6 separate regions of the Homo sapiens genome follow, and all the other regions are reported to be linked to region 3. The links are microRNA targets in miRTarBase. Many come from high-throughput screens and were not tested one by one. Region 3 holds a microRNA gene; each other region holds the end of a gene's coding sequence.
What was found. Region 3 holds the annotated microRNA hsa-miR-124-3p (UAAGGCACGCGGUGAAUGCCAA, at 3,334-3,355, opposite strand). A microRNA usually pairs through its seed, bases 2 to 8, with sites in the 3' UTR of a target mRNA and lowers its output. Matches are read on the target gene's strand: a 7mer-m8 pairs with bases 2 to 8, a 7mer-A1 pairs with bases 2 to 7 and ends in A, and an 8mer does both.

Region 1 (5,084 bases), not on the chromosome of region 3:
GGGGGGTGGGGAACCCCCACAAATACATCGCATCTCTTATCCGTTAAAATTCAAGATGACTCATCATTTTGTCTTCCTGGTAATCCAGACAGGGTCACTTTTCCAAAGGCCAAATTCATTGGCAGGACTTTTTAACAGGGACATTCTGACTTTTTAGAAAAAGGCCAAAGTCAACATCAGAAAATCTTTTTTCTGGTCTGCGGTAATAATAGCCACTGTTTGTCAAATGTTACTGTGTGCCAAGCACTGCACATGGTGCTCTAGGTACTTTTCTTATTTAATTCTCACAACCCCGGGAGGCAGATATTTATTCCCATTTTATAGATGAGGATAACAAAACTCAGATTAAGTAAAGACAGACATTGGGGCCAGCTCACTCCAGCAGAGGCTCCCACGATGACCCTCCCTGCTCCTCCCAACTCTGCGTCCAGTGACCTCACATTGGTGGCCTGCAGTCCATCATGGGGGGAGTATTTACACCATAGAAATTGGCAAATTGTACAAACCAAGGTCCTTCTCTTTTTTTTCCTCTCTCATCCTCAACTTCATATTCTTTCTAGTTCATGTCTCCACAAGAAAATGAGCTTTAATAGAGCATCATTTGAGGCTGGGCGTGGTGGCTCCTGCCTGTAATCTCAGCACTTTGGGAGGCCGAGGTGGGCGGATCACCTGAGGTCAGGAGTTCAAGACCAGCCCAGCCAACATGGTGAAACCTCGTCTCTACTAAAAATACAAAAATTAGCCGGGCGTGGTGGATTACAGCCGTGTGCCTGTAATCCCAGCTACTCGGGAGGCTGAGGCAGGAGAATCCCTTGAACCTGGGAGACGGAGGTCGCAGTGAGCCGAGATGGTGCCACTGCACTCCAGCCTAGGCGACAGAGCCAGAGTCCCTCTCAATAAAACAAAACAAAAAAAAAGGGTCATTTGGCTGTAGGCGATGGGTCCTCAGGAAGCCGGGCTGCTGGAAGAAGCTGAGCATTGGCTAACCAGGGTCCCTTGCCCCTCCTTCTCGGGGCCTCACAGATGCTTGATCATATCCAAGTATTGCTGGTAAACACGTGTGAGTCCTTTTCCTCATCAGTGCTAAGCAAGAGAGATTCAACTGAAATTACAAGGGCTGAGTAAGCCGGAGACAGGATTTACTAAGTATTAATAATATGCTGTCACATATGGTTCTTTTCATCTTCAAAGCATTTTATAGCCATTTACTAATTAGTCTTGGGCTGCCCTCTGTGTGCAGGTACGATGCTCGATGACAGGCTGAACCGGCAGGAAGTATTTACAAATATACAGGTGACCTTCACTCGTTTACAGGCGCCACCGGCTTCTGTTGCTGTTGCGGGGTAAAGATAAAATCACGCAAACCCTGGTGTTTGAGTCCCTGGTTCTGGAAACATACAGTGGTGACTGTCACCTTGTGCTGAATCCCCTCTAAGAAAACCAGCCCAAATCCTCCCCTGTGGCAAGGAAGCTGAAAGTCTTTTAAAAATAATCATAAATTTCCATCTTCACAAACCTATATAACGTCCATCATCCTTCACTGGGAAATAAAAAAATAAGCTTCAGTTTGTTCACGAGAGTATCGACACACGTGAGAATTGTTGCTGGAGGGGAGCCAAGAGCCTGGATTTGGTCTTGGCTCCGGCCCTGACCGGCCGGTGATCGTGGGTAACTCACTTAACTTCTCTCATCTTCTGTTTCCTCATCTGTGGAACAAAAGCAACCCTATTCAGTTGCTCACAGCCCAGGTCTGCTGTAAAGCTGTGTGAGCTAATGTGTGTGGCAAAACTTCTGAGTTAGACTGTGTGCTTCGCTGATGGGCAGGGTCTCATTCGTTTTCTGGGTCTGTGGGCCCCCAGGGGCTGGCAGGGGCAGGAGGATGACATTCCCAGACCACACTGCCCACTACTGGCTGCTGTCACTGCTGAATGCTTATTTGAAATGCTGAGGGGACGACCAGTCCACAGGACCTCACCCCCTCCCACAGTGCCAACCACCATCTGCTAGAAGTGGAACCAGTAAGAGTTGACTGAGCCTGGGCTTGCTTCAGACCCAGTTGCAGCTCAGAAGCAAGTCCGGGCTCAGTCAACTCTTGGTGCTGTGCACAGTAGAGCCCAATCCGTACCCCTCCATCAGGGGAGGGTGCCCCTAGCAATCCTAAGTGACCATGCCATGGCACCTTAGTGGGGGATGGAGGGGACATGGGGCATAGCACACAGCTGCCCTGAGTAGAGGGGCACCTTCTTGTGGGCACTCAGCGGGTCAGGGTCAGAAGCAGTGCCAGTGTGGTCAGCTGGCTTAGTGGGTCATGATCACTTGCTCAGTAGAATCGCTGGGGGAGTTTTATCAAAATCTAGAAGGCTAAGCTCCAGCTAGTGAGATTCCAAGTCAACAGGCCTGCAGTGGGAACTACCAGAGCAGTAGTTCCTAAAAAAATCTCCCCGGGTGATCTGATGAGCTGAGCCCACAATCCAGTCCAGCCCCCTCCTAGTATTAATATTATGGAGAGGAAGGGACTTACTCAAGGCCACATAGCCAGTTAATGGCAGGGCTGGGATATGGACATAGGACACTGGACTGTTGTTCTTGTCCTGGGAATTCCCAAAGTTTCAGGGTAGGGGGCATAGTACCCACACGGTGAAAAAACCCAGAGTTGGGCAGGCCTCCAGCTGACAGGCAAGATGGGAGGTCTGTTCCAGCTGATCTCCAGCCTCCTGAGAACATTCCTGGGTGCCAGAGAACACAGGAAGCAGAGGCACGACTTCTCCTCACCAGTCTTCACAAGGGCCCAGGGATGGTTCTCTTTTGCGCTCACCTGGTAAAAATGGGCTCCAATAGCCACGAGGGGAACTAAGGGACCAGGTGAGAGGCCCTGTAAAATCATGTGTGTGTCCTGCAGGAGGGGCCAGTGGCTTCGCCTTGGAATGGGAAGGCCAGAGGGTGTCAGGTCGAGCACCCAGGCCAGCTCTTGCCCTCACCTCTGTGGGTGGTGCGTGGGCCCTGCTTCCCTGTGTGGAAGGCCATCAGGACAGGACCATGCTAAACCAAACTGTAAACCTGGTGATATGGCCAAGCCGACGGTAGCCATCTTGTGTTTCAGCTAAGCGAGTGTGTGATGGTACAAGGAGGCCTGGCTCCAAGTTCCCAGGTTTGTTCCTAATTTGCTGTTTCTAATTTGCATGTTTCCTTAACTCTTGGGCCTTAGTTCTGTCCTCTGTACACTGAAGGGAGTAACGGGGTAGAAACGAGATGACTTCTGAAGACCCTTCTGGCTGTGATGATCAGTAAGTTCAGGGAAGATGTCGCCTGCTCAGGGTATCTTCCCCAGCTCTGTTCCTGGCTGGCTGCACAACTGCCAGTCCCCAAGCCCAGAAAGCAGACACATTCCTCTGATAAACCATGACACCCAAGCTTTGTCTTTGTGTATAATTCACACAGTGCTGCAGAGGCCCAGAGGGGATGGAGAGGGGAGAGCCGGAAGGACAGAGCCGTTGGTGCACTCACCAAACTTTAATGACTGCCTACTGTGTGGGGCTGGCCTGGGAACAAGGTGTCCACACAGGGGGCTGGAGGGGTATGGATGGCAGCGGGTGGGGCTGTGTGTGCTAGAGGCCATTTGTTATTGAGCAACAGCCTTAGGTCAGGCTGGATGAGTGGCTGAAACCCAGCAGGTTGGTCACATTGACTCAGGTAACTCCTTCTCGCCGTGAAGGACTGCCCCAGATAGGAAATGCTTGGGTATGAAACACACACATGCACGCACAGAGGGAAGACACTAGTTTCAGAGGAAGAACAGCGAGGGGCATTTAATCTTAGAACTTAAGAGGTCTCAGAGACAAAGGCTTTGGAAGAAAGGCGTGGGCATTCCTGAGGCTTTACTTTCCCCGGAAAATTACTGCACCATAATTTGTGAGTTTATTTCTTCCAACTAAGAAATAGAGGCAAGAAAGAGGGAGTAACCCGAAGTGAAGGGCTCTAGGATCCAGGGACCACCAGCCAGCTCAAGTTGGATTTCAGCAGTCGGGGCTGCCTGGGGCGTGCAAAAGCTGCTGTGTGAGCAAAACGCTGCCGTGAAGACATTCCAGGCGGCTTCCAGGAAGCGGCTGTATGTGCTGACACGCATGTGGACAGGCAGTCTGGCTGGCCACCTCTCAAGACTGGTGTTTCCTAGAGCTTTCCATTGGCAAATGCTGCCTCCTGGAACTGAGGGACAAAGGTTTTGAAATAAGCCCTGGTGGGAAAGAAGGGGAGAAAAAAAATTGTGGTTAGCACAAACAACTTGAAACAAAGTGCAACTGGGAGCTTTCAAGCTAACTCAGAACAGTTGTTATTTATTGTTCATGCATCTTGGGTTGGATTTGCCTTCTCTGCTGAGGCAAAGCCCTCCGGATTTTTCCGAGGAGATGCATGCAGTTCACTACTGTGACATCTCTCAGGAATATTCAAAGGGCCTGTACGTGCACCCTCCTGGCTGCCAATTCCTATGAGATATCTGCACTTAGGTCCGGCTGCCTTTTTTCAGGACAAAGACAAGGGCCTGGTCCAAGCTACAAGACAGTGTGTGTGCAATTGAACCACGCAGTCATTTAGTGATCTAGAGTATCAGGAAGGTTGCATTTTCCACTCAGTTGGACCTTTGACTTCATAAAGACAAAGAGGGTCTAATAAGTTTTTTAACACATTTGATTTTTTTAGAGACAGGACCTCACTCTGTGAGCCAGGCTGGAGTTCAGTGGTCCAACCACAGCACACTGTAACTCTGACCTCCAGGACTCAAGTGATCCTACTGCCTCAGCCACCCAAGTAGTTAGGACTATAGGTGTGTGCTACCATGTCAGCAATTGTTTTTTCATTTTTTCACAGAGACAGGGTCTTGCTACATTACCCAGACTGGTCTCAAACTCCTGGCCTCAAGGGATCCTCCTGCCTCGGCCTCCCAAAGTGCTGGGATTATAGGCCTGAGCCACCACACCCAGCCCTAATAATTTCTAAATGATTCATGGGCTCCATTTATTTCCAAACGCACATGCAGTCTGGTCTACTGGAAAGAAAGCTAGGCTGGGTGTTAAGAGAACATTTCCCAG
Region 2 (5,089 bases), not on the chromosome of region 3:
GCCAAATCAGGACTGTAATGATTTCCCATCAAAATTCTCCCAAAATTGCCCTTGATGAGAGGAATAAGCAGAAGCACTGTCATGGTGGAGGAGGACTCTCCTGAAGCTTTCCCAAGAATTTTTTGCTAAAGCTTTGGCTTCCTCAAAACCCTCTCATAATAAGCAGATGTTACCATTCTTTGGTCCTCCTGAAAGTCAACAAGCAAAGTGCCTTGAGCCCCAAAATACTGTTGCCATGACCTGTGCTCTTGACTGGTCTCCTTTTGCTTTGACTGACCCGCTTCCACTTCTTGGTAGCCATTACTTTGATTGTGCTTTGTCTTCAGGATAGTACTAGGAAATCCATGTTTCATATCCTGTTGCAACTTTTTGAACAAATGCTTCAGGATCTTGATCCCACTTGTTTAAATTTCCATTGAAAGCTCTGCTGTTGTTTGCAACTGATCTGGGCACAACAGTTTTGGCGCCCATCAAGTGGAAAGTTTGCTTTCAGTCAGAATTGTGTAACCTGAACCAATTGAGACGTCTCTGACACTGTCTATTGTTTCTGCTATTGCTAACTGCTGTTAATCATCAGTCCTCTTTGATTAGGGCATAAACAAGATTAATTTTTTCCTCAAAGATTCATGTGTAGGGTCTCTCACTGAGGGCTTCCTCTTCAACATCATCTCATACCTTCTCAAAACAAGTTATTCATTTGTAAGCTGTTGATTTCTTTGGGGCATTGTTCCTATAAACTTTTCATGAAGCATTAGTGATTTCACCATTTTTTCACCCAAGCCTCACAATAAATTGATGTTTGTGCTTGCTTCGATTTTAGCAGAATTCATGTTGCACTGATGTGGTCTCTTCTCAAACTGATGTCTTATCCTTCTTAGTGTCTCAAACTAGATCCTGTTCAGACATGTTATGACAAGTTAAAGACTCTGTCTCAAAGTCTTTTTTTAAGTAATAGGATAATCTTCATACCATCCTAATTGGCCAGTTATTAGCTCTTGGGAAACTGGGTTTTAACTAATTGTTTTAAACACATCCCAGCCTTAGATTTCTATCCATGTTGTAAACATACTCTTCAAGAAAAAAAAAAAAAAAGATATAAAATGTGTGAAGGCTGACACTGGGGCACTCTCCACCCAAGCTCCCTCCAGGGAGTCTGATCCAAATGCCCTACCTTCCAGGGCTGCAGCCTCAGTTGTACCAGACCCTCACATCACTGCCTGATTAATCACTGCCTGACTAGGCTGCCTGATTGTGGCCTTTGCCTGGCCTTGCTCCCTATTTTAAATGACACTCTCGCCACACCTTCACATACCCATGACCACAAACTGGGTTTGCTTCTGTCTACTCATCATGCCTTTCCCCTTTGCAGACATCATGACCGGATGTGATATTCCTGATCCTAGATCCTGCTTTCCCTTTCTTTCCCTCTCCATTACCATTTATTGAGTGGACACCTACTGTGTCAGGCACTGTAATTGGTGTTTTACAAACATTATTACTATTACGCACAACCCTACAAGACAGATATCGTTCCCACTTCACAGCTGAAAAAAGATTACAGTCTGACTACCCCTTCTCTGAAATGCTTGGGACCAGAAGTGTTTTGGATTTTGGAATATTTGCATTATATTCCAAAACCCAAAATGCTCCAATGAGCATTTCCTTTGAGTGTCACGTCAGTCATCAAAAAGTTTCAGATTTTGAAATTAGGGATACTAAACCTGTACTACTGAAGGTCTTGCAGCTAGTAAATGGCAGGGTATGATCTGAACCAGACACAAGTGGTGATTAAGTCAGGTCATTATTAGAAGTCACCTTACAGAGAAAACAATCAACATGAGATACATTCTGTCACAATGCTTATGCTGCTTAGATTTAATGTAGACATATTGGCATTTGAAAGTGCAAATACTGTCTTTATAAGGTCTTTGAAGAACAGAGTTAGCCCTTGTTATTGCTACAGTTAATTCAAAGTGCTAATAGCTAAAAACCAGAAGTTATTCCAAAGTTCGCATGAACAAAACTCACAAGAAAGTTATAAAAATATTTTATTTAAATGATACAGAAAAAAATGTATACTTAAAAGTGATTAAAACTTCACATTAGGAAATGCTAAAAACCCAGTAATGTACATAATGATAAAATCTAAAGTGATGAGAAAACATAAAATATTTTCATTTGGTCCTGTCACCTAACAAAACTATCATAAATATGAGATTATAGTAATTACTAAAGCTGGTTAAAGGCACATGACAACATAATTCCTTTATACACATCCAGTCATTTTATACAAGGAACTGCTATCCCTTAAATGGAAGAGTGAACTACTTGTTTAAAATATTAACAGTGCACTATGTACCTACAATGAAACCACTTTCTCCAAAGACTCAAACAGATTAACATTGCAAAATAGTACTTCTGTATCACTGACTTCTGAAAATTTTAATAATTTATGCATATGCAAGTGAAATATAATTTATTCTGGTTTCAACAACAGTTATACAAAGTCACAATTTTCCCCAGGAAACCATTCACTTCATAGCTGCAAAAACACACTGTAGCTTTTCTGTTAGGGTCTGCCATGCTTTCAGCTAGCTGGATGTTTAACCATTCACTTCAAATTTACATGTCCAGCCAGGCACGGTGGCGTGGGCCTGTAGTCCCAACTACTTCGAAGGCTGAGGCAGGAGGATCACTTGATCCCAGGAGTTCAAAGACAGCCTGGGCAACATAGAAGACCCTGTCTCTTAAAAAAAAAAAAAAAAAAAAGTGTATGTCCTTAAATCTGAAAGAAAACCAGCATTTATGTACCAAGTAAAACATTGTATCTCAAGCTATTGCATTTAACACTAAAAAGCATAGTTCACTCTGTAATCTACAACATTGTCTGAGTCTCCATTACCAATTATAACTTCATGTCAGAGTAAGAGCTCCCAAACATCTGTAAAAACTCAAAATTCAAGAGTCAAAGAAGGGGCTGAGAACACGAGAAGGGGAGATGGGTGACAGGGTCAGGTGAGGAAGTGTTCTGAGATGTGTAGGATTCCTCCGGGCCCAAAGCCGCTTGTGGCACCACAGGTGTACAGGAATGAAGGGCCTCCTGTGAGGGTTCCCAGTGGTCCCAAGACACAGCAAGGTGCCTGAAGGAGGCTGGAGACATTGGCGTGGGCATGGAGGTGCTAGCAACTATTTTCAGACTGCTAACAATGAGAGTATGTCCATTTCTTCTTTACACAGTTACCACTGACCTTCCTTTAAAATCCCACAGGGAGAACATGCTGTTTTTAGCAGAAATGTCAGTTTTCATTAACTCCTTGAAAATTTAGCGTATTAACTTTTATTTCCATGAGCTTCAGTTTCCACACCTGTCAACTGCTGTATAAAGCAGGTTTCCTGCAAGTTCTGATGTAAGTGACCTGACAGGAGGCACTATCTTTGTCCTTCTCACCATGCCCCTAAGCATCTGGAGTGAGTATTCTCAATATACACTTATTTAATAACAGAGTTATCCGACACTCAGAAAACAGCCTCCACTGTGTAAGGCAGCAGATCTCAGGATGGGGTGATCTGTAGGGAGGCAGAAATTCTATAAATAACACCAAACGAAAGCTGATTGTGTCATCCAACACATTTTTATGAGGAAGTCAGAATAATTAGAAGATGGCAGAATTTTTTTTCCCAATTAGGTAAAATTGTTCATTCTTCCTGTATTCCCATTTCTTAAGAATGATCCAGCCAACAGTCACTGAATATAAGCTGACACAAATTAATATAATTTCAACATAAAATGGTCTAATGTGTGAATTCAACTATATTGGAAGGTACAAATCCTGTCTTTATGAGGTCTTTGAAAGGCAGGGTACCTTCTCTAAAAAGTAGTCACTTAGAACCAACTTTTACAAAAGAAAGAGTCTCAGCCCCCAACCCCCGCCAGCCTGGGCAACATAAGGAGACTCTGTTTCTACAAAAAAATTTTTAAAAATTAGCCAAGCATGGTAGCACATGCTTATAATACCAGCTACTTGGGAAACTGAGGTGGGAGGATTGCTTGAGCCCCCAAGTGGTCAAGGCTGCAGTGAGCTGTGATCATGCCACCGTACTCCAGCCTGGACAACAGAGTGAGAAGCTGTCTCAAAACAAAAAGGAGTCTATCTCAGAGTTCAATGAATGGATAATTCTAGTGTGGACAACTCTGGTGTAAACATGACTGAAAATAATTCACAAATAGTCTGTTACAGCTCCATCCACTGAAAATTGTCATAAAAGACATTTTTCAAACGAGTTCATTTTTAGAAAAACCACTCCAGATATCTTACCTTCGGAAATCATCCAAGGAGTGTGATAAACATGACAACCCCCATAAACTGGGTAAACAACAACAATGGAGTGAAAAACGACCACACATGCCATAAAGCAATGTTGAAGCTGAAAAGAACAAGACATAAACAGTTGACAACTCCAATATGCATCAATATATTTTATTCTAGAATCCAGATTTAAAGTATTCAATGTAGAAAAGTTCATCCAGTCAGCAACTTTCTCTATGTATCATATTTCTCAAGTATGTGACTTAGCCAATGCTGGAAAGGAAAACTCTAGATATACTTAAACAAGTATCACAATTTCTTCAAGAAGGCCCTGGAACTGGAACCACTAAAGGTCTCCTAATAGGGGTTGACATGGCTTAATAGAAACTGAAGTCTCTTAGTTTCTGACTTCAACAATAATTTAAATGGCTACAGCCCATTTTTATGACATCACACACTAAACTATCATGGTAAAAAAGACCAAAATATTGTCTCTTAAAAACAGAATGAAAACAGTTATCACTTATAAGCTGCTATTATATCTTTCATTGAGAAAAACACTATTCCTGTCATCAAAGTAAAATTAAAACACTAAGTATAAAGATTTTTAATGACTGAAATTTCTAAGAACAGAATAGGGAAAACTATATTCAAATAAGTTCAGATGGTTATTGGTTTTAATATATAATAGTTTGATAAGTATGAGTATTAAATAACTATAATCACAAATCACACTGTCTAAAAAATTAACATTTCTGGACATGATCTTACCCTCATGGGAA
Region 3 (5,089 bases):
GATTCCAGGGCTGCCTCTGGCCCATGTCCCTGGCTAGCGGTGACTTGAGAAGACCCTGCTACCTTCCTGGCACCTCGGGACAGGGTCACCAAGCAGAGGCAGACTTCTCTGCTCTGTGCTCTCACTGTCGGGCAAGGCCTCTCCATCCCTCTAATAAGCTGGAGGGAGTCACCCTGTATCATTTCATTTTTTAGTTTTTAATTCATTCCCAAACATTATCCCCTATGCCCCACCCCACCCAGCTGCCAACTGTTCCTGGCACCCACAGCCCCAAAATAGCAGCTGGTCTGGGCACCAGGGGTGAAGGCTGGGCTGTGAGGGTCTGAACTCTGGGGTCATCACTGCCAGGAGCCCGGCTTATGGGCACGGCCAGGAGGCAGCCAGGGGCAGGGAGGCTGAGAGCCAGCTCCTAATCTCTGCCCTGGCCAGAGACCTGCCAGGGGGCTTGGACTTGAGGGGAAGGAGGGTGGGGGCTCCTGGCCAATGGCCACACAGGGAGCCCTACCTGGAGGTGAGATCAAGGTGGAGACCAGGGGCTGCAGAATAGAGGGACTGGCTGCCCTGGCCCCTGCTGATTGTGGCCTGGCCCCTGCAGCTCCTCCCACCTCTGCTGCTCGTGGACCGGGGGATTTGGAGGAATTTCAGAGGGGACTGTGGGGCCTGTGGCTTCAGCCTCAGCAGCTTTATTAGGTTTTATTCAGAATAAAAATCTTTGGGTCAGGGAAGGGATGTCTTCCTCTGGTCCCACACTGGGGAGGGCCCTGCTGGATAGCCCTGAGCTGGCCTTGCTGGGTGTCATGGTCTGGTCAGAGGGTGTCCCAAGCCCTTGGCTCAAGTTTGCTGTCCACCAGGACCACTGCCTGGCAGCCGACCCAATGCAGGCTGGGTGCTGAGGATTCAGTTGGGGGTATGTGCCCAGCTCTTCCTGAGTGGAGGCGGGCAGTGTCTGTGTGTGCGTGGGAGGTGAGACTGTGTGAGCATGTCTGTGACTGTGGCTGCGGGTGTGAGCAGGAGGAGGAGAGGCTGAGCTGGACATGCAGGGCAGTCCATGTTGGCTGCAAAGCATGGTGATGGTGGCCCCTGCCCCAAGGGCCTCTCACTGAGGCCAGCAGCTCAGCTGCTGCAGGTCCGAGTGGACCCTGTGGCACATGGGGCCCTCCCCGCACTGCGGCAGACGGTGCTACAGCTATGGTAAGGCCTGGCCCAAGAAGGTGCGCACTCAGCTCTGCAGCTCCTTCGCAGTGAGCTTCCCCCCGTGTGCCCCATACCTACTGGGCTGCCCACCTTCCTGTGACCCCCTGAGCTCCAGCCCAGAAGCCACAAGTCTGCCCTGGGGGCTGGGGCCCAGGTGCACCACTGGGGGCAGGCATCAGGAGAGGTAGCTCCCTGACCGTGACAGAGTCCAGGAAGCTCTTCCTAGGAGACCCCACAGAGACTGACTGTCTAGGGACAGTGCCAAGGGCAGTTTGCCCATGCGCTCCCACCAGCTCTCAAGTGTCCCCCTCCCCAGGCTACTGACATGGAAGGTCCATTCTGGCTAGGAGCCAAGTCCCCTCCCCAGGAAGGAAAGTGGTACAAGAACAAAGCCCCAGCCCCCATCTCTGGCCCCAGAGGAGGGAGCAGCCAGGGGCCACCTTCCCTCCGAGGGAAGGGCCAGGCTGGAGGTCAGAGCTCCAAGAGGAAGCTCCAGCTAGGCTAGGGCCACATCTTGTACCCCGAAGGAACACCCCACTCCCACCAGTCCCTTTGGTGTTGTCCTGGAACGATCCTGGGGCCCCTTCCCCTTCTCTAGGACCAGAAGTGCCCCTGGGGGATGCTGCCTGTCCCCTCACAGCGGGAGGAAGGAAGAAGGGGACGCCAAGCCCCGGGGTCAGTGTTGTGGTCAGGCCGGGGCTTGCTGGGGCTGCCTATGCCACTTCTGTGCCCTCCAGGGGGAACCTGCCCCTGAGGAGACTGGTGGACCGTGTTCTGACTCTGCCTGGCTGACTGGGGTGGGGGTGGGAAGATGGAGGCACCAGTGGCTCCTGCTTGTGTCTGCAGCAGGCGACTTGGGTGGAGGGGCTGGAGGTCTGTGCTGAGGACAGCCGCAGAGGCAGGTTCCCTTTGTGGCCCTGCAGCGGCGGTGGTGGGGGTGGAGATGCCACTGCCTGAAACTCAAATGGTTCCTTTTATCCTGATCTTCTGCTCCCTGCCTTGGGCCTGGAGCTGGGAGAACTTCAGGTGACTCAGACTCCTGCCTCGGATTGAAGCCGGGGAGGAGAGGCTCAGCCTCTACCTGGTTAAGAGGAAAGAGGCAAAGCTGCAAAGCCAGGTCTGGCACTCGCCCCAGGGGAAGGGGGCTTTTGGGGAGGGGGTCGTCCTCTGACTGTTACCGGGGCATCACAGCCCAGCCGGGGCCTGGGATGGGCGCGGGGGAGGCGGCGCAGAGGCGGTGCCGGGCGTCAGCAGGTGGCGCTGGCTTCCGGGGACAGAAAAAAAACCCCTGCAGCAAACCCGAGTGGGTGTCACTGCGGCTGCAGATGGCGGCGGGGGAGGGATTTGTCATTTTCTCCCTGGGCTGCGGAGTCTCACGTGCCTGGTCCTGCACAGCCCAGAGCCGGCTTTGGGGGCGGGATGCGGTCCGGCGTGTCCACCGCCCTCGTTTGGACCCTGGACGCGGACGCAGACCCCCGTCCCCATGCAAGCCTGGTCCTGGGCTGCGGGGGCTGCTCTGGGGCCACAGCGAGCGCCGCCTCCGCCCCGCCCCGCGGCGCAGCGGCCCGAGGAAGGGCAGACTTAGCGGTGACCTCAGACCCTGCCCCACCTCCTCCCACGTTGCCGTGGCAACTGTCCAGGGCGCCCGCTGTGGGGGCGAGGGCCGCACTTGGCCGCCCTCCCGTCCCGCGGGGGCCGCCCCGCCGCCAGCACCGCGGACAGCGCCGCACCCTAGCCCGCCGCCCCACGCACCCGCCCGCCGCTCCCCGTGGACCCTCCCTTTGTCTCCCGGGCCCCGCCGCCCTCTGCGGGCGCCTGGGCGCTCCGCGCTGCGGACACACGTGGCCGGGGGCCGGCTGGCCGCAGCCTGGCCCCGGCCGCAGGCTCCCCCCTCGGCCGCCCTCGGCCGCCCCCACCCGCCCCGCGACGCCAGAGGCGTGCGGGCCCCTTTGTGTCCCGCGGCCAGATCCCCGGCCCGGCAGCTGGGCCGCACTCTGGGCGGGCGCATTGTTCGCCGGATTTGTCCGCGGCGCGAATGGCCGCCGGGGGCCGGGCTCGCCTTCCTCCCGCGGGAGGGGCGCTGGGCCGGACGGGCTCGCGGGCCATTTCCATGAGAAAGGAGCGGCGGAGGCGCCTCTCTTGGCATTCACCGCGTGCCTTAATTGTATAGACATTAAATCAAGGTCCGCTGTGAACACGCAGAGGGGCCCTCAGGGCTGGGGCGGGCGGCGAGCGTCGGGGCCAGGGTCGGGACCGGCTCGGGCTTGCGTGGGGTCCTCGCCCGAGGGGCGCGAACGCTCAGGCGTCTTCGCCGCGTGGCGGGCAGGGCGGGGGCGCTGCGCTCAGCCGACTGTGCTGTCCCAGTCCGCCCCCGACTCGGAGGAGCCCACACTTCTCCCCTTTCCGCGGCAGAGAGTGGGCCCCCAAGTGCGTCCCTCCGGGCGTTCCTGGAGCTGGGGCGCCCGGGAATCGCGAAGACGGATTCCGGGGGTGGGGGTGGTGAGCGCGTGCGCACCCGGCCGCCTCCCGCGGGGCTCCGAGGGGCGCAGAACCGCTCCGACTGGGCGGCGCGAGCTCCTCCGCAGCTGCCTTCCCCTGCCGTCGCCCTGCCCGTGCCGACCCAGGAGCGCGCACCGAATGCGGTTAAAAGAACGAATCTCGATGCTCAAAGATGAAAACTCGTCTCTTTTTACAACCCAGCGAGCTCGTCCTCTCCGCGCGCAGCGGGCCCGCGAGAAGGCGCTCGAGCTGTTCGTGGAGAGAAAGACGGGGAGACCCAGAGAGGCCGCTTGCCCGGCTCGCCCCGGCCCGGCCCCGAGCGTAATTACCAGTCCCGGCGGGAGCCGCTGCTGCCGCCTCCGCTCCCTGCGCCTCCCGCGCCGCCGCCAGTTCCCGCCTGCTCTTCGGCTCCCGGGGGCCCCGCGCGCTGCTGCCCTGGGCGGAGAAGGGCGCGGGAACCCCGAGAAGGGAGCCAGGCAAGTCCCCGAGCGCCGCAGGCCGGCTGCGAGCCGAGTGTCCACGGGGTCCACGCTGCAGGCGCCCAGCTCCTGCTAGCCCGGCCCGGCCCCGATGCAACTGTCCCCGCGCCCGCCGCCGCCGCCGCCGTCGCCGTTGCCTCCGCGCGTATCCGCGCTCCGCTCCGGCACCGGCCGATTATCACTGGGGCGCGCGGTGACGTCACCCGGACACCGGCCCCGCCGCTGCCTCCCCGAGGTGTCCTTGAGAACTGCGGGGCACGCGCGCCGCGCACACGCGCACACACGCACTGCGCGCCTCGTGCCTCCCGCGCATTCGCACCGCGTCCCGCCCCGCGCGCTCCTCGGCTCACGCGGACTCAGCCATCGAGCGCCCTCGACCGTGCCCTGCGCCCGGCGGCCACACGGAGACCCAAGGAAACGCCTGTCTCCCACACACTCCAGCCCCTCACATGGCCCTCCTGCACCCACGCGCGCAGCCCCTCCAGCTGCACATTGACACCTCTAGCCACACCCCGCCACGCGCACGCCTCGCCACGCGCACGCCTCGCCGGCACGCAGCCCAGCGGCACCCGCAGACACGCACCCGCACTCGGGCCCTGACCGCGGGTTCGCGTCTCCTGTCTGGCGCCTGCAGAACGCACTCTGCCGCGCAGCTCACACCGCGGTCCTCCAAGCCTCTCAGTCCTGAGAAAGGCAAGGGTCCCGCCGGCCTCCTGCGGATGGCCCTGCTGGGCTCCGTACAGTGGGGTGGGAATTAAAGGTCGTCCTTCCCCGCCCCCATCGGAGCTTGCGGTTCTCACAGTTTCAGACCGGGATGGGAGCTCTTGCCCGTAGGGACCACGGAATCACAGGCGACACTCCACGGCCCGACTGCAGTCACTGCCAGCTCGATAGGGTCCTTGGGGCGCCCCCGATCT
Region 4 (5,089 bases), not on the chromosome of region 3:
TTAGAGAAGATATAGTTTCTAGTGATGACCAGGGAATGTGTGGTTGAGGGAAGGAAATGTGGTTGTCAAATACAGAGAGCTCAGAATGCTGGAGTTATCTGCACCAATAATGAAGTCACCCATAGGGTGACACAAGTAGAGGTATAAAGAAAGAAAGGCCAACAGGAACTAAAGTATTCAATTAATGCAGGGAATGAATTAAGATAAATGACCTATAAATTCATGGTTGACAGCAGCACGAAGGGGTAGAGCATAATATATCCACATGACACGGCTTCAAATAAGCTGGGGCATTTTTGAAGAAGGACACACCTATCCCAAATCCTAGCCTTGAAGTGCAAGAGGAATGATAGAAAACAAAAACAAAAAACAATAACCCTCACTAGAATTGGAAGATTTATCCTTAATTAATGTCCAGTTCAGTTAAGGCAAGACAATACGTAGAATTTTCAGAGACAAAATTGCTGATATAATAGAGTTTTCTAATCAAAGAAGTTTGCAGAGTAGAAGGTTATCAGAAGGTGGGGGATTTATCAACTTAGAGATATACAAAGGATGTAGGATCTGCCAGGGAAGAATAATGATGATAATGGTTGATAGAGAGGCATTGACTTCTGGTCGTACTAGAAGTAATTATGGATGTCAAGCATGGTCAAAGTCATCATGGTAGTCTCGAAGAACCCTGGGCATTGGTTCACTGGGTAGCCTTTCTATTCAAAGCGCGGTACCAGGGCCAGCCGCTTTGGTATCACCTGAAAGTTTGTCAGAAATACAAAATTACAAGCTCTACCCCAGGCTTAATCAATCAGAATCTTATTCAATCTGATTGATTCTTAATCAGAATCTTATTCAATCTGATTGATTCTTAATGAATCAAAATCTTATTCAAACTGATTGATTCTTAATCAATCAGAATCTTATTATTGTGTGTACAAAAAGGTTTAAGAAGCATTACTTCAATTATTTACCTCTAAAATATGGGGTGCCTGTTTTCTCCTCTAGCTCCTGTCAGTGGACTCACCAGAAGTTGAATATGTTGACTTCATCATGGGACTATTTCTCTTTAAAACATCATTATGAGACCACATTGGTGACCACATTACTAAACTATAACTTTCTCCGCCTTCAGATGGGGACTATTTTGTATATTATTAGTGCCTGGTGCCTAATAAAATCCCAAAAACAGACACAAAAAATTTCCTAGGTGTTGTGGAAGCCTAGAGAGCGAGAGGGACTAGGCGTGCAGGAGGAATCTCTTTTGCAGTTGGGCTGGTGATGTGGAAAAAGTAGGACTGTAGGACTGGAAAAGGGAAGATTGGGTAGGTTGATAATTTGGAAAAGGTAATTAAAATATAAATTCATAAAAAGATGTCAAATATTTTAATTTAAAATATACACACTACACACACACACATACACACTACACACACACACACACAATGCCACATTTGTATGTGTATTAATTCCTTCACAGATATTCTTTTGTAGGGCCCAAGGCCTTTTATCTGAGTATGAACTGGTTTCTGAGAGTTCTGCAAACATCTTCCTTGCACAAAGCATACTAAAAATGCATTGTCTAAAGATATTTATTTCTGCTGTCTTTAAAGTGAATTGTGAAGCAATCTGAGTACAGAATCTGCCTAGTTTTTTGTTTTCCCTATCTTTTACAATTCTCATCTACACATAACAGCATTTTAAAAATGATTTTTTTCTAGTCCTTCCGATAAAGTCAACCTTGTCCTTTTTGCACTTATATTTTGATGGTATATAAAGTACTTAACTAAATTGTCCAATACTAGTCTCTGGTAATATAGGGGCTTAAAAAATCCATCATCATTGGTTATAGTAATGGGCAATTTTAGTGTGTTGCTTATTTTCTCCTATAGTTAACTCTGTGATCCCCTCTCAGATTTCAGTGAACTTGCCCATCAGGTTAACCCTAGTGGATCTGGCAGTGCAGCTTACCAACCGAGAGTTCTTAGGACTTGGTGCTCTGGAATGAAGGCAGCATGCCAGGTCTTCTGTAGCAACCAGACCATTTGCCATGGCAGCTTCAAATTGAGCAAGAATTCCACAATTTCACACTTGAGTGCAGTTAAGTCTCAGGTGGATGGCAGCCAGGTTCCATAAATAACTCTCGGTTATCATTGTTCCAAAACTCAAGACTTTTAAAAGGCACTACCTACCCTAAAGGTCCAGTCCTTAATGACATGATTTGTATGACACTTGAGCAATAGCCTGAGGCTGCCAAATCAGGTAAGAAGGACTTTCCCATAATAATATCAACCTACTCTAAGTAGATTTCAGTTGGATCATGATATATCAACATATGAGTGATACATGCAGGGCACTCACTTTGGTTTTTTTGAAAATATGTTTAAGTTCATTTATGAAATATTTTTGAGAAATAATTTTGTGTTTAGAGATATAATAAGCTCTAAGAGAAATATATGCTCATAGATATTCATGCCTAGTGGTACTTACCTTCTACTTTAAAATTATTTGCCTTTCTTTCTGACCCATGAGACATAGCTCAAAAGTAATAACAAGTCTTACTCTGCCTACCATCACTTCTGATATGGTTTGGCTGTGTTCCCACCAAATGTCATCTTGAATTGTAGCTCCCATAAATCTCACGTGTTGTGAGAGGGGCCCAGTAGTAGATAATTGAATAATGGGGGTGGTTTTCCCCACACTGTTCTTGTGGTAGTGAGTAAGTCTCACGAGACCTAACGGTTTTATAAGGGGAAACCACTTTCACTTGGTTCTCATTCTGTCTTGTCTCCCTCCACGTAAGACATGCCTTTCACCTTCCGCCATGATTGTGAAGCCTCCCCAGCCACGCGGACCTGTGAGTCCATCGAACCTATTTTTCTTTATAAATTACCCAGTCTCAGGTATGTCTTTAACAGCAGTGTGAAAACGGGCTAATACAACTTCTGATAGAAAATTAGGCACATAATACACATTAGTTGAAATAATCAACTGGAGAATGTAGGCTTTTTTTTTTTTTTTTGAAAGAGTCTTGCTCAGTCACACAGACTGAAGTGCAGTGGTGTAATCATAGCTCACTGTAGCCTCGATCTCCCAAGCTCAAGCAATGCTTCTGCCTCACCTTCCTGTATAGCTGGAACTACAGATGCGTGCCACCACACCTAGGTAATTTTATTTTTAATTTCATTTTTTAATTTTTACTTTTTGTAGAGATGAGATTTTGCTATGTTGCCCAGGCTGGTCTGGAACTCCTGAGCTCAAATGATCCTCCCACCTTTGCCTACCAAAGTGCTGGGATTAGAAGCTGAGCCACCATGTCCAGCTCAGAATGCAGGCTTTTTAATACAAATTCAAACTTACAAACAAACAATGAGAAGATAGGGTCAATAACCAGTATATGCTCTTTTTCGTACAGCTGAGGCTCTGCCAGATTTAAAATATGAAACCGATCGTATTTTACTTCGGGAACAAGAATACAGGAGATCTAAATATAAAATGACGAAAAACAAAAAAAAAAAGTGGTAAATCTCCTAAGCAAGCGTCAAATTTTTTTAAAACATCATTCTATCAGATGCTTAAGGAACTTTATCAGAAATTAATACAAAATTTTCTAAATATTGAACACAGGAATTTTGCTATTCCTCATTTTTTGTGCCATAAGAAATATCTGATGGTTTTACAAACAATAGGCGCTTAGAAATTCAGCATACAAAATTCATTTTCCCCCACCTATTATCAATTACAGATTTTACCCAAAAGAGGAAAAAAACTTAACCAAATGATTACAATAGTGTTGAGGATTTTTTATTGTGTTTTCCACATAGATAAAAAAATAAGGCTTTTTGATGAAAAGAATCCATTACAAAGTCAAAAATCCATTACAATTATAATTGAATCAGTAACAAAATTTAGCTTTAAATGAGTCAAGTATTCTGCATTTGAAATTTAATATCACAAACATTCAAGATTAGTGAATTTTGGTAAGAAAAAAATACTAGAAGAAAGGAAAAGGACACCTTTTCAACAGATAGTAATTTATAAAAATTTTTTTAAAAGTGCTTTGGGAAAACACACAGTATCATTACTTAAGAAAAGTCATTTAAGGAAGACTTAAGTGCTTCAAGTGGAGTGTATTACAGACTAAAAAATGTTTTAAAATTTGCCAAGAAATTTAAGTGTTAAAAATACTCTTCTCCTTATTCAGTTTCATGTTTAAGGAAACATTTGACAGACAAGTAAACCAAACGCAAAAAAAAGTTCACCTGCATTTTAAACTAATAAATTCTGGATCTGTAAAAGCTCTTGGTTTGTACACAGAGGCCAATGCTGACATTTATTGATCTATTTTTATGTAGTTAAAAAAATACAGTAACAAATCTTTCTTCCTATCCCCCCAAAAAACTAGGGGAAATATTTTAAATTGTGAGTGTGTGAATGTAGCTATATATATATATCCCTAAGTGTACAAAACACACAAACATCACTTTACTTGGAAAATTATTTTCATCATACTGTAAACATCTCTTCCCCTACATCTGGACATTTTGAAATAGTCTTTGGTATTACTAGTTATTGTGCTTTGAAACAGAAACTTGCAGAATTTCTGTAGTAGTGCTACATAAAGATATAAATAAGAAAAATGCACTTGGAATAAGTTACATTTAGCTGCTTTTGCATAATTTTCAAAAACTACAGTGTATGCCTAGTCACAGTTTTATGAGAAAGAATATTTCCTTTTTCAACTTAATTTTAAGGAACACTTAATCATTTTGGCTAAGTATCCATTTTTGGAGTGGATCTGATGGGTTGCATGACACTAAACTTGGATGCTCTCCATTTGCTGAAAGGCACATTTTTAAGAATGGATTGTATAGAAGTTGATCCTAGAATAAAAGGAAACAACAGACATTAAATTCCAAGACTCATAGTTAAGTGACAAATATGAAAAAGATTTTATGGTTTCATTGAAGCAAACCTAATAGCAAATCTTTCTAAGGTGAGCCATGTCTGATAAACTCTTTTTGGCTTCTAGTGTAAATGCCACCTTTTAAGCTACTACTCTTCAATTAGTAAGATATTACATAATGAAGAGAGG
Region 5 (5,089 bases), not on the chromosome of region 3:
CAGCAATACTGAGGATCCCCTCTGCTGAGGGGCAGAAGAAGGCCTTCTCCACTTGTGCCTCGCACCTTACAGTGGTCATTATTCATTATGGCTGTGCTTCCTTCGTGTACCTGAGGCCCAAAGCCAGCTACTCTCTTGAGAGAGATCAGCTTATTGCCATGACCTATACTGTAGTGACCCCCCTCCTTAATCCCATTGTTTATAGTCTAAGGAATAGGGCTATACAGACAGCTCTGAGGAATGCTTTCAGAGGGAGATTGCTGGGTAAAGGATGAAGGTTACCCCAATAGGACACTTTCTTCTGTGTAGGCTGGGCATAGACCAAGAACCCAAGCCAAAGGGCCAGGTATTCAAGGCCTCAGGCCAAAGCTGTCCTACCCCCAATCTTCTGGGAAAGCCTTATCCTGCCTCTTGCCCTTCCCCCTGACTGCTTGGAATGCAGAGGCGGGGCTTCCTGCTCTGCTCACTGTGCACAACTCAAAATGAGCCCAAAATCTGAATTTTAACTTTCAGCCTCCTAGATGCCACCCCTAGTTACTGAAACCCATTGAGAATTAAAAATTTAATTAAGATAATCAAGAATTTTTTAATTGAGCTGAACAAAATGAGGGAAGTTTGGAGTGTTCAAGTTCAAGGCAGGGCTGGCTGGAGCCCATCAGGGATACTGTAGAGATTTCTAAAATCATTACATAATTAGACTATTTGACCTGTAATGTTCTTCCAAGATTTGAAACCTGGGGAATATCAGCTTGACAGGTTAGTTTAAAGCTTTGTTAAATGAACAGGTGGGTCATTTTTACTCCCACTGGGTGTCTTTCATCTTTTTATGTTTTTATTTTTTTTAATTTCAACTATTATTTCATATACAGTGGGGCACATGTGCTTATACATTCCTCATTGTGCTATTGACAGTAGCAAAAACATGGAATCATCTTTTTATATAGTTGTCCTCACTATCTCTGACTCTGTTACTTTGCCCTTTTTGTTTTGATTGATTTTCCAAGCTGGGTGCACTCTATTTCAGAAAATATATTTACTTCCTATTTTTTTTTATAACTGTTAATGTTCCCTGGTAGCTTCAGAATCTTGAGTGTCAAAGACCTTTCTCATTTGGGTCGCTTATCAAATTGGATACTGTTCTTTTGAATCTATTGCAGAACTATCTATTCTGCCTATTCCACTTTCCACATATAATGTGGTTATATATAGCGGCGGACATTATTAGAGAAAGTGTAATGAACTCACAAGACCGTCAGGCAGGAGTTTGAATCCAAACTCTTCAACTTACTAGCTGTGTGACTCTAGGTAAGTTATTTAACATTTTTTTCAGCTTCCGAGTCTTATCTTTACAATGGTTGGTGACTAAACAGGATCATGCATACAAAGAATTTAGCACAACCCTTGGATCATAGCGATCGTCCAATAAATTCCAGTTGCTACTATTAAAATGTGTGAAGGAAAAAGATATTGGCTTTTAGTTTAGGTAGAGTTTACTCTAGGTGGAGGATCAGAGAAGACTTCATGTCTTAAATAGTATCTGAACTTGTTCCTAAAGGATGGGTGAGCTTTGAATGCACTGACTGGGGAGAAAGTACATTCTCAGAAGAGAGAATGTAATAGCCAAAGGCTTGATGGTAAGACAATATAAGCCTAGTTTAATGTGTGTGAGTTATTCAGAGGGGCTGGAAACAACTCACAAATGATGCTGAGAAGTTAGTTTGAGTCATGACTTACTTGTTGAAATAATTTGAATACCTTGCTTCAGACATGGTCCTTTTGTCTATAGGAGATAAGGCACAGTAAAACGTTGAACAGAGAGAGGCATCTGGGAAGGGATTCAGGAAGATTAATCCAGCAGCAAAGGGGATGATAGATTTCAGTAGAGAGAAACCAGAGGCAAGGAGATCAGCAAGAAACCCATGGATATCAGCTTAAAAAAAGGCAAAGAGGCTTGAATATGGATAGTGACATTCAGAGACTGAAGGAAATCACAAACATGAGATTTTGAGAAGGTAGAATTCACAGGATTTGGCAGTGAGATAGAAGTGGGGCATGGCTTGAGAGACAAGGAAAGACCTTAGGCCGAGAAGATATTTTTCAGACAGAAATCCATATTTTTTCATGCTTTCAGGAAAGAAATACATCCTCTAATTGGAATTTGATGAAAACAATTTGAGAGGAAGGAAGCTAGAGCTCAGAGAAGAGAACAGGATGAAGACAAGTAGATGAGTTAGTCAGATAGCCAAAAGGGCCTCATCAGGGGAGAAAGGCCATCTACTCTGAAGTTCTCAATATTGGAAGAAGTAATGCCTCATTGCACTGAGGCCATGTGAGCAAATTCATTTCACCAGTTCATTCAGTCTGCCCAGCATAACATTGACTAAATGCACAGTGACGAATGGTTAGTAAGGATGTTTCAAGTATTGCTAAGTAATACTTAGAGGTCTAACTTCCACATGTAGTAGTCTTAAGTATGGAAGGGTATAAAATCACTTGGAGGGATTTTTCCAAATAGGTGTTTTTGGAATCTATCTAATTTGTTTCTACCTTGAAACAATTGATTTGGGATAGGGACAACATAATAGTCTTCAAAATCTCGTTTGGTGATTCAAATTTCCTCTCTTGATTAAGTATGTGACTACGCGCTTAGAAAGGGCAAACTCTTCTTCCAGGTACACACATTTGACCCACTAAATGACTAATAATTTGATTTAGGCCTTGAAAATTTTTGGCAGGGTTAGCATTGGGGGAATGGAATCACATCCACCTTTGCTTGTGATTATTTTCAGCACAAATAGTTTTAGACTATCCATATGTGGTAAGTGTGATATTAAACAATGCTAATTTTCGATGGCCTATATCTTTTCTAACTGTACTATTTTTGGTAACTTATAATCAGGCAATTTAGACATTTGTGAACATTAATTTTGAAAATACTTTCTGCTTGTTATATTCCATAGTATTTGACTATTTAAGAAAAGAATCACTAAAATACCTGTATGTTGTTAGTATCAATGATAACTTTTTAGCTTTAACCAACTTTTTGTTTAAAAAAGGCTCCTATGACAGGATTTGTCCTGCACAGATTCATTTCTATGCAGAGGAAGGGACTGAGACTTAAGATGGTAATCAAGTGGCAACATGAATGGATTGGTAAGTGGGGACTATTTGTGCAGAACGCTAGCAGTTTTATACACAGCAATTAAGATATCTAAGAATTCTCACCAGCAAATGACACCATTACCTTTTATAGATCAAATCAGAATGTCGGCATATAAACCTGTTCAGAATAAACCTGGCCTGAAAATTTTTGAAGATAGCATCACCTCTTCTTTTTTTAAAATTAATTCTTAATTTTATAAATAATTCTATTAACTGTTACTTTAACAGGATATTGAAGTATTATTTTTATTACATTAAAACTTAAGAGAAAATACGGGAGCTTGGAGGACAAGAGAAAGCCCTGCTATGCTGGAATTTTGTCTTTCTGAGAGTAATAACATCTACAATAATTTTGAAGTATGGAAAAAAAACAAGAAGAAAACAGGTGTTATGCTGATCTGTGTGTTGTTTCATTGTACAAACTAAAATATTCATGTTCCCCAGAAAATCAAATATCTTTATTTTCAAATTTAAATTTAAACACATTCCAAAGTTTAAAAAAATTGTTTGAAAATTGCCTTGGATTTTATTTATCTACTATACCATGGCCCTTCTTTACAGTAAAATTAGCTGCCCACTCTTATATGAGTACAGTTCCCAGAAATATAGAAGCTCAACATTTTACTTAACTTTGCCCCAAAAAATATTTTTAAAAAGAATTACTTTATTCTATAATCGGAATAAAGCAAAATGATAAAGACGTGCAAAACAGAACAAATAAAAATAGAAACTTTGACACCCCTCAGCAGTGACTAGTTGCATACAAAATAGCTTCCACTCCTCCAACTCTATTAACCTTTCTATCTCCCACCCTTGAGATTTTTTAAGATCCTACAATAAATGTAATATGCACACAAACACAAGCACACACACACACACACACACACACACACACACACGAGGCCATCTTTATCTTCCACATTTGCCTGTACTCTTTGCCCCCCAGTAAATTTCCCACGACACTAAGATTTTCTACGATCCACGAGGAGCTGCTTATTAGTTGCCAAAGTAGGAATTGGTGAAGCCAACGTAGTCATAGCCAGAGAGATGGCTTCGACCCCGTGGGTCCATATATTGCTGCATATGTGTGGCACAGAATGACACTTGCTCTGGGGTAAGGGCCTGAAAAGTATAAAAAGAGAAAAATACAGTTATAGGGATTCAAAATAGCTGGTTCCTTGGGGCTTCCCATATTACGCCATAAATGCAGGAGATGGAGAGTCTCTGGAAGACGCAAGCCCTATTTCTATTACACACAATTTTTATCTCATAAATTTATAATTTCTAATGAGTAACTTAACTTTTAATCTCAGCCCTTTCTTGAAAAAGAGAGCTTACTCACTTTGATTATTCTGTAAATCTCATTCCCTAAAGTTGTTTTATTAAATAGAAGGAATTATATGCCTAACAACATTTGTTGACCACTTGATCTATTTCATCTTCCTGGCTGCTTTGAGATGTGGGGACTAGCATGTTTTATGAGTAAGGTAAAATACTCAAGAAGGTAGAATAACTCACCAGTGGTTACACTGCCAGAAAGTGGTAGAGCTGGGACTTGAACCTATGATCCTCTTATGCCAAAGAGTTCCTCTATTCACTGTGCTGTTTGATTACCAAGTGGATCCCTAAAGACTCCAATAAGTTAGCGTGTGGGTGGGTGGCTCCAGATAGTGTCTGGAAGACCACATCATTTTCTTTTTGTAACAGCTTTGTCGAGGTATGATTGATAAAGAATTGCACCTTTAATGTGTACAGTTTGATGAGTTTAGACAATTGGATGAGTTTGTGCAAAACGATACCATCATGTATGTGACCCTTTGTAATCTGGTTTCTGCTTAATTGTTTTCCCTTTCACTTTCTGTTACTATCTTCTTACCTTATGCTTTAGGTATTAGGAAAATCTGTTTTCTCAAGTTCCTTTGCACAC
Region 6 (5,000 bases), not on the chromosome of region 3:
ATAACACAGTGTTATAGCATATGTCCAGAATATTGAAAGAGTTGTTATAATACCATAAAATACATGAATCCTGTTATGAACGTGGCAGGTGAGACATGGTGTCTGTCTGCCCGAGCTTTCTGCTGCAGCTCTGTATACTTGATTTGTCGGTGATGGATGCCTTTCCGCTGTCTCTTATAACTGACTGCCAGGTTCGGGCCTACCTGATATGTTGCAAACTGCGTTCTGCCTACTTGATTGCTGTGAAGCAAGAACACTCACGGGCCACAGCCCTTGTCCAGCAGGTGCAGCAGGCCGCCAAGAGCAGCGGGGATGCAGTAGTGCAAGACATCTGTGCCCAGTGGCTTCTGACAAGCCACCCCCGGGGTGCCCATGGCCCAGGCTCCAGGAAGTGACCTTGGGCAGTGGGGCCAGGAACACGTGGCCTGAGAGCTGGGCAACAGCAGTGATGGCGATGCCCTCCACCTCTTTCCTCCAGTGGAGTGGGACTTCTCTGGCTCTGCCCTAGGTTGGAAAGAGTTGGATTGGACCCTACTTGCCTTCCCGGGCAAGGATAGGACCTTTCACGCAAGTGCCATGTTTCTCTAAAATTGTGGAATCTATGTGTGTTTGTCTGGAGATGGCCAGTTCTTTCTACCTCAGAGTGAGTGAGTGAGTATGTGTGCACACACGTGTGCATGTTCCTGTGCGCTGATGTTTACGCCCAAGCATTTCTGAACAAATGAAACTCTTCTCCATTTAAAAGAGGCACTTTACTTTAGACTTGCCACTCTGAAAACCTTCCCTGCGTTTTGGTTCTTGACCCGGGTTGTCCTGTTTGTATAGTCCCCCCTCTGTGGACGTGCTTTAGTAGCTCCTCTTACCTAGAGGGCTTTTACAGAGAATTAGAGCAACACCAAAAGGATTGCCTCTTTTCCTTCCTTCCCATTCCAAAATTCAGAGATGGCTTTGGGGCAAGTGCTACCTGTGGAATAAACCTGTTTTCCAGGTGTCTCTTCTCCCAAGCACAAGAAGTCCTGGAGTCTTTGGAAGGTAGTCTGAATAGAAGGGTTTTCAGGTGCAGGCATCTGAAAGCTGTGGGTATGTGTATAAATGATCAGGTCTGTGAGGCTAACACGGGCAAGAGGGAAAGAAAGGCTAACCATCCAAACAGGGATACAGGGGAGGCGGTGGGGGGTGGTGGGGGGAGCGGGTGCTCACAAGCACAGAGCTGCCTGTTGTGAATGTCCCTGCTGCAAAGTTGGTGGGTGAGAGAATGGGACTTCCTCTTTGAGAGTCTGGGGAGAGAAAAGGTGGCCAGGATCCTAGGACTGAATGACTCGATTTTACCTATTTGAGCTGCAGTCCTGTTTGCGCTCCTTGAATTGGTTAGGAAGCTGCTTCCTTTTCCCTCCTGCTTCCCTTCAGTCTCTTCAGGACCACAGGATGGATATGCAGACATGTGGGGTCATTGGGAAGGGAGTGCGCTTCTTTTCTCTGTCTTAGAAAAGGGAGTCAAGGGTTGGCTTTGGAATTGGGCCTCTGGACAGAGTCAGAATGAGGGAATAATGAATAGGTCACATCTGGTTGGTGGAAAACTAGGTGAAGTGCTTCTTTAATATGCACTGTCTTGTCTTCCCACGCAAGATGTGACAATGTTTGAGAAAAGGTGTGTCATACTCAGTGACTTCAATTTGCAAATGTGGGGCCTAAAGAAAGCTCTGCAGCTCTGAACCTCTCACTGGCCAGAGCTCAGCCTATTGGTCCCATCCATGATGCTGAGACAAACAGAAACTGGAAGCTGAAGTCAGTGTCTCTGGTGCTCAGAAACCCTGTGGATTTCCCTCTGAACCAAGATTTTTAGTAGTAAAATAAACAACTCATGGACATCTGTCAGATGAGAAGTTTTGGTCCTGTTAGAGAGGAGAAAGACTGTAATGAAACTACTAGACCCATTTGGGCTAAAGTTTGGCTTTTCCTTCCTTGAGTCATAGAACGTATCCATCTCCCAGGAAATGTCCTTCTCTGGCGTCTGCTTGCCCTTCTGAGTCTGCCTTTTTTGCACTGAACATAAGCACTTTATACTAATGGGTCACAAATCTTGCAGCCCTTAATTTGGGATAAGACCAGATTTTCCTGACATTTTCCTCTAACTCATTGAACTATCAAATTATAGGCAACCACTGACTAGACTGATATGAGATGAGGCTAAAAGCCTTTGAACACCACGCTGTAGTCTCCAACAGAAAAACACCACCAAAACAGATACCCATGTTGAGGGGTTGAATGTTTTACTACAAACAAGCCACAATAAAGTGTCTATCAACATGTTTCTTGGCTTCATAACTTCTTGGTGCTGTCTTGCTCCTACCCTTTGCATCCTTTTTCCTTGTGGAAAGAAAAGGGAGTGGGGAAGATCAGATGGCCTTCAATTCAGACTTAGTCTAAATAATCCCCATAATGACTAATGACTTTGCTTAGGATTTATCTCATTTCCTATGTGTTTAAACACTGTTAGTGCACCCTCTACCACCAGAAAACTTTTTTTTTTGCTTCAGTTGGGGGATGGGTAGAGATAGGTAATACGTTTATAAGGTGCAAAAGGTAAGTGAAAAGTCCCTTCCACCCTGTCCACCCAGCCCAGTCCCCTCCCAGAGGCCACCATTGTTATCAGTGTCTAGTGTACAGTTCCAGAGCAAATGACTAAAGTGTTCCACTGTGAAGCTATACCACAATTATTTAACCAGTTTCTAATGATGGACATTTTATGTTGTTGCCATCTTTCGCCACTACAGATTATGCTGCATTGAATTATCTTGTTCAGAATACCAAATTTTCTGGATCTATGCTAGTCCGATGGGTGAAAGGTTTCTTCTTTAGTGAATTTTTTTTTTTTTTTTTTTTTTTTTTTTTTTTTTTTTTGAGACAGGGTCTAGCTCTGTCACCCAGGCTGGAGTGCAGTCGCCTGGCTAATTTTTTTTTATTTTTTGTAGAGACAGTATCTCACTATGTTGCCCAGGCTGGTCTTGAACTTCTGGGCTTAAGCAATCCTGCCTCATCCTCCCAAAGTGCTAGAATTACAGGGCTACTTCCCCTGGCCCTGTGCCCCAGCCCTCTAAAATGCTTTAAAAAGCTGTTGTCATTTTAAAAGCTCTACATATCTTTTCAATATCAACCAAATTGTCAATCTTTGAAACCAGGTGTAGGGTCTTTGGGGCAAGCAGAACTCAAACTTAGCTTAAACTGTTTTCTTGCCACCCACTTCAGGCATATGTTTGCAGTATGATACTTGAGCCATGGACAGTGGCATCACTGCTCATTATCTCCTTTCCCCGGAAACATGATCTCATCCAATTTCTCATGTGAAAAAAAAAAAACAAACTATACTTTGAGGGATCATTTCTATAGTTCGTTACTAGAGAAGTTTCTCTGAATGTGTAGAGTATGGACTGAAGAGCTTCTGCACAGCAAAAGACACTATCAGAGTGAACAGGCAACCTACAGAATGGGAGAGATTTTTTTAAATCTATCCATCTGACAAAGGTCTAATATCCAGAATCTACAAGGAACTTAAATAAATTTACAAGAAAAACCAATCCCATCAAAAAGTGGGCAAAGGATATGAACAGATACTTCTCAAAAGAAGACATTTATGCAGCCAACAAACATGAAAAAAGCTCATCATCACTCGTTATTAGAGAAATGCAAATCAAAACCACAATGAGATGCCATCTCACGCCAGTTAGAATGGCAATTATTAAAAAGCCAGGAAACAACAGATGCTGGCGAGGCTGTGGAGAAATAGGAATGGTTTTACACTGTTGGTGGGAGTGTAAATTAGTTCAACCATTGTGGAAGACAGTGTGGCGATTCCTTAAGGACCTAGAACCAGAAATACCATTTGACCCAGCAATCTCATTACTGGGTATATACCCAAAGGATTATGAATCATTCTACTATAAAGAGACATGCACACATATATTTATTGCAGCATTATTTATAATAGCAAAGACTTGGAACCAACCCAAATGCCCATCAGTGATAGAATGGATAAAGAAAATGTGGCACATATATACCATAGAATACTATGCAGCCATAAAAAAGAATGAGTTCATGTCCTTTGCAGGGACATGGATGAAGCTGGAAGCCATCATTCTCAGCAAACTAACACAAGAACAGAAAACGAAACATCGCATGTTCTCACTCATAAGTGGAAGTTGAACAATGATAACACATGGAGACAGGGAGGGGAACATCATACACTGGGGCCTGTCGTGGGTGGGAAAGAGAAGGGAGAGCATTAGGACAAATACCTAATGCGTGCAGGGCTTAAAACCTAGTTGACGGGTTGATAGGTGCAGCAGACCACCACGGCACATGTATACCTATGTAACAAACCTGCACATTCTGCACATGTATCTCAGAACTTAAAGTAAAATAAATAATAAATAAATTTAAAAATTAAAAAAGATCTAAAAACAAACAACAGTAATGATTAAAGTAGACCTGAAAACCACCTGGTAGTAGACGTAGCACAAAGATATGTCACAACAGAGAAAGTTGGAACACCCACTCTAAACCTAGGATAGATGACTGCTATATTTAGAAACCTGAGACACTCCAAGGTTACCAGATATCTTTGGCTGGAGCTTAAGCAAAGTAGATCAAAGGCTATTAGACTCTTTGAATACCCAAGCAACCAAATATCGATAGCCACAGTAACCCCAGAGGAAATGGCCTTTTCCTGGCCTTCATCTCTTATTCCACAGTGATAATGTTGACTGACCTATCCTTGAAATGTTTAGTTCTTCCACAACAAATTCATTCGATGTCTGGTCACTGAATGGCTTCTTTGGTGGAATGCTTTCCTGCTCGCTAATTCTGCATGTTGTTATTTCTTCTTGGAGCCCTTCCTTCAGCACCTCCTCTACCCTACCCTCAAGTCTACCATTGTCAAACCTCTTCCCTCAGTCCTGCATCGAGTGCCATCTCCTGTACAGATTATTCACTTCTCTGCCTAT

Region 1: miRTarBase lists BABAM2 as a target of hsa-miR-124-3p. The part of its 3' UTR that is shown has no 7-base or 8-base seed match.
Region 2: the mRNA of TMEM128 is a reported target of hsa-miR-124-3p. Seed matches in the 3' UTR shown: 7mer-m8 at 2,243-2,249.
Region 4: miRTarBase lists GALNT3 as a target of hsa-miR-124-3p. The part of its 3' UTR that is shown has no 7-base or 8-base seed match.
Region 5: miRTarBase lists SPTA1 as a target of hsa-miR-124-3p. The part of its 3' UTR that is shown has no 7-base or 8-base seed match.
Region 6: miRTarBase lists ZFYVE26 as a target of hsa-miR-124-3p. The part of its 3' UTR that is shown has no 7-base or 8-base seed match.

The regions. Positions count from the first base shown.
Region 1 is chr2:28,337,597-28,342,680 of GRCh38, reverse strand. It overlaps BABAM2 (BRISC and BRCA1 A complex member 2), which reads right to left. Exons shown (of 12, transcript NM_199191.3): 12 at 3,780-4,231. The coding sequence ends at 4,168. Among named protein-coding and RNA genes, the nearest start is that of BABAM2-AS2, 30 kb to the right of the region's middle. RefSeq lists an enhancer at 2,092-2,711.
Region 2 is chr4:4,233,511-4,238,599 of GRCh38, forward strand. It overlaps TMEM128 (transmembrane protein 128), which reads right to left. Exons shown (of 5, transcript NM_001297551.2): 4 at 4,317-4,425; 5 at 2,032-2,746. The coding sequence ends at 4,326. Among named protein-coding and RNA genes, the nearest start is that of OTOP1, 9.1 kb to the left of the region's middle.
Region 3 is chr20:63,176,818-63,181,906 of GRCh38, reverse strand. MIR124-3 (microRNA 124-3) reads right to left here and starts at 3,407; the gene lies at 3,321-3,407. RefSeq lists a silencer at 2,623-2,912 and an enhancer at 3,200-4,160.
Region 4 is chr2:165,744,027-165,749,115 of GRCh38, forward strand. GALNT3 (polypeptide N-acetylgalactosaminyltransferase 3) reads right to left here. Exons shown (of 11, transcript NM_004482.4): 11 at 3,562-4,877. The coding sequence ends at 4,755. Among named protein-coding and RNA genes, the nearest start is that of GALNT3, 48 kb to the right of the region's middle.
Region 5 is chr1:158,607,106-158,612,194 of GRCh38, forward strand. SPTA1 (spectrin alpha, erythrocytic 1) reads right to left here. Exons shown (of 52, transcript NM_003126.4): 52 at 3,599-4,284. The coding sequence ends at 4,159. OR10Z1 (olfactory receptor family 10 subfamily Z member 1) reads left to right here. Exons shown (of 2, transcript NM_001004478.2): 2 at 1-5,089. The coding sequence ends at 275. Among named protein-coding and RNA genes, the nearest start is that of OR10Z1, 4.4 kb to the left of the region's middle.
Region 6 is chr14:67,743,831-67,748,830 of GRCh38, reverse strand. ZFYVE26 (zinc finger FYVE-type containing 26) reads left to right here. Exons shown (of 42, transcript NM_015346.4): 42 at 192-2,309. The coding sequence ends at 395. Among named protein-coding and RNA genes, the nearest start is that of RDH12, 44 kb to the right of the region's middle.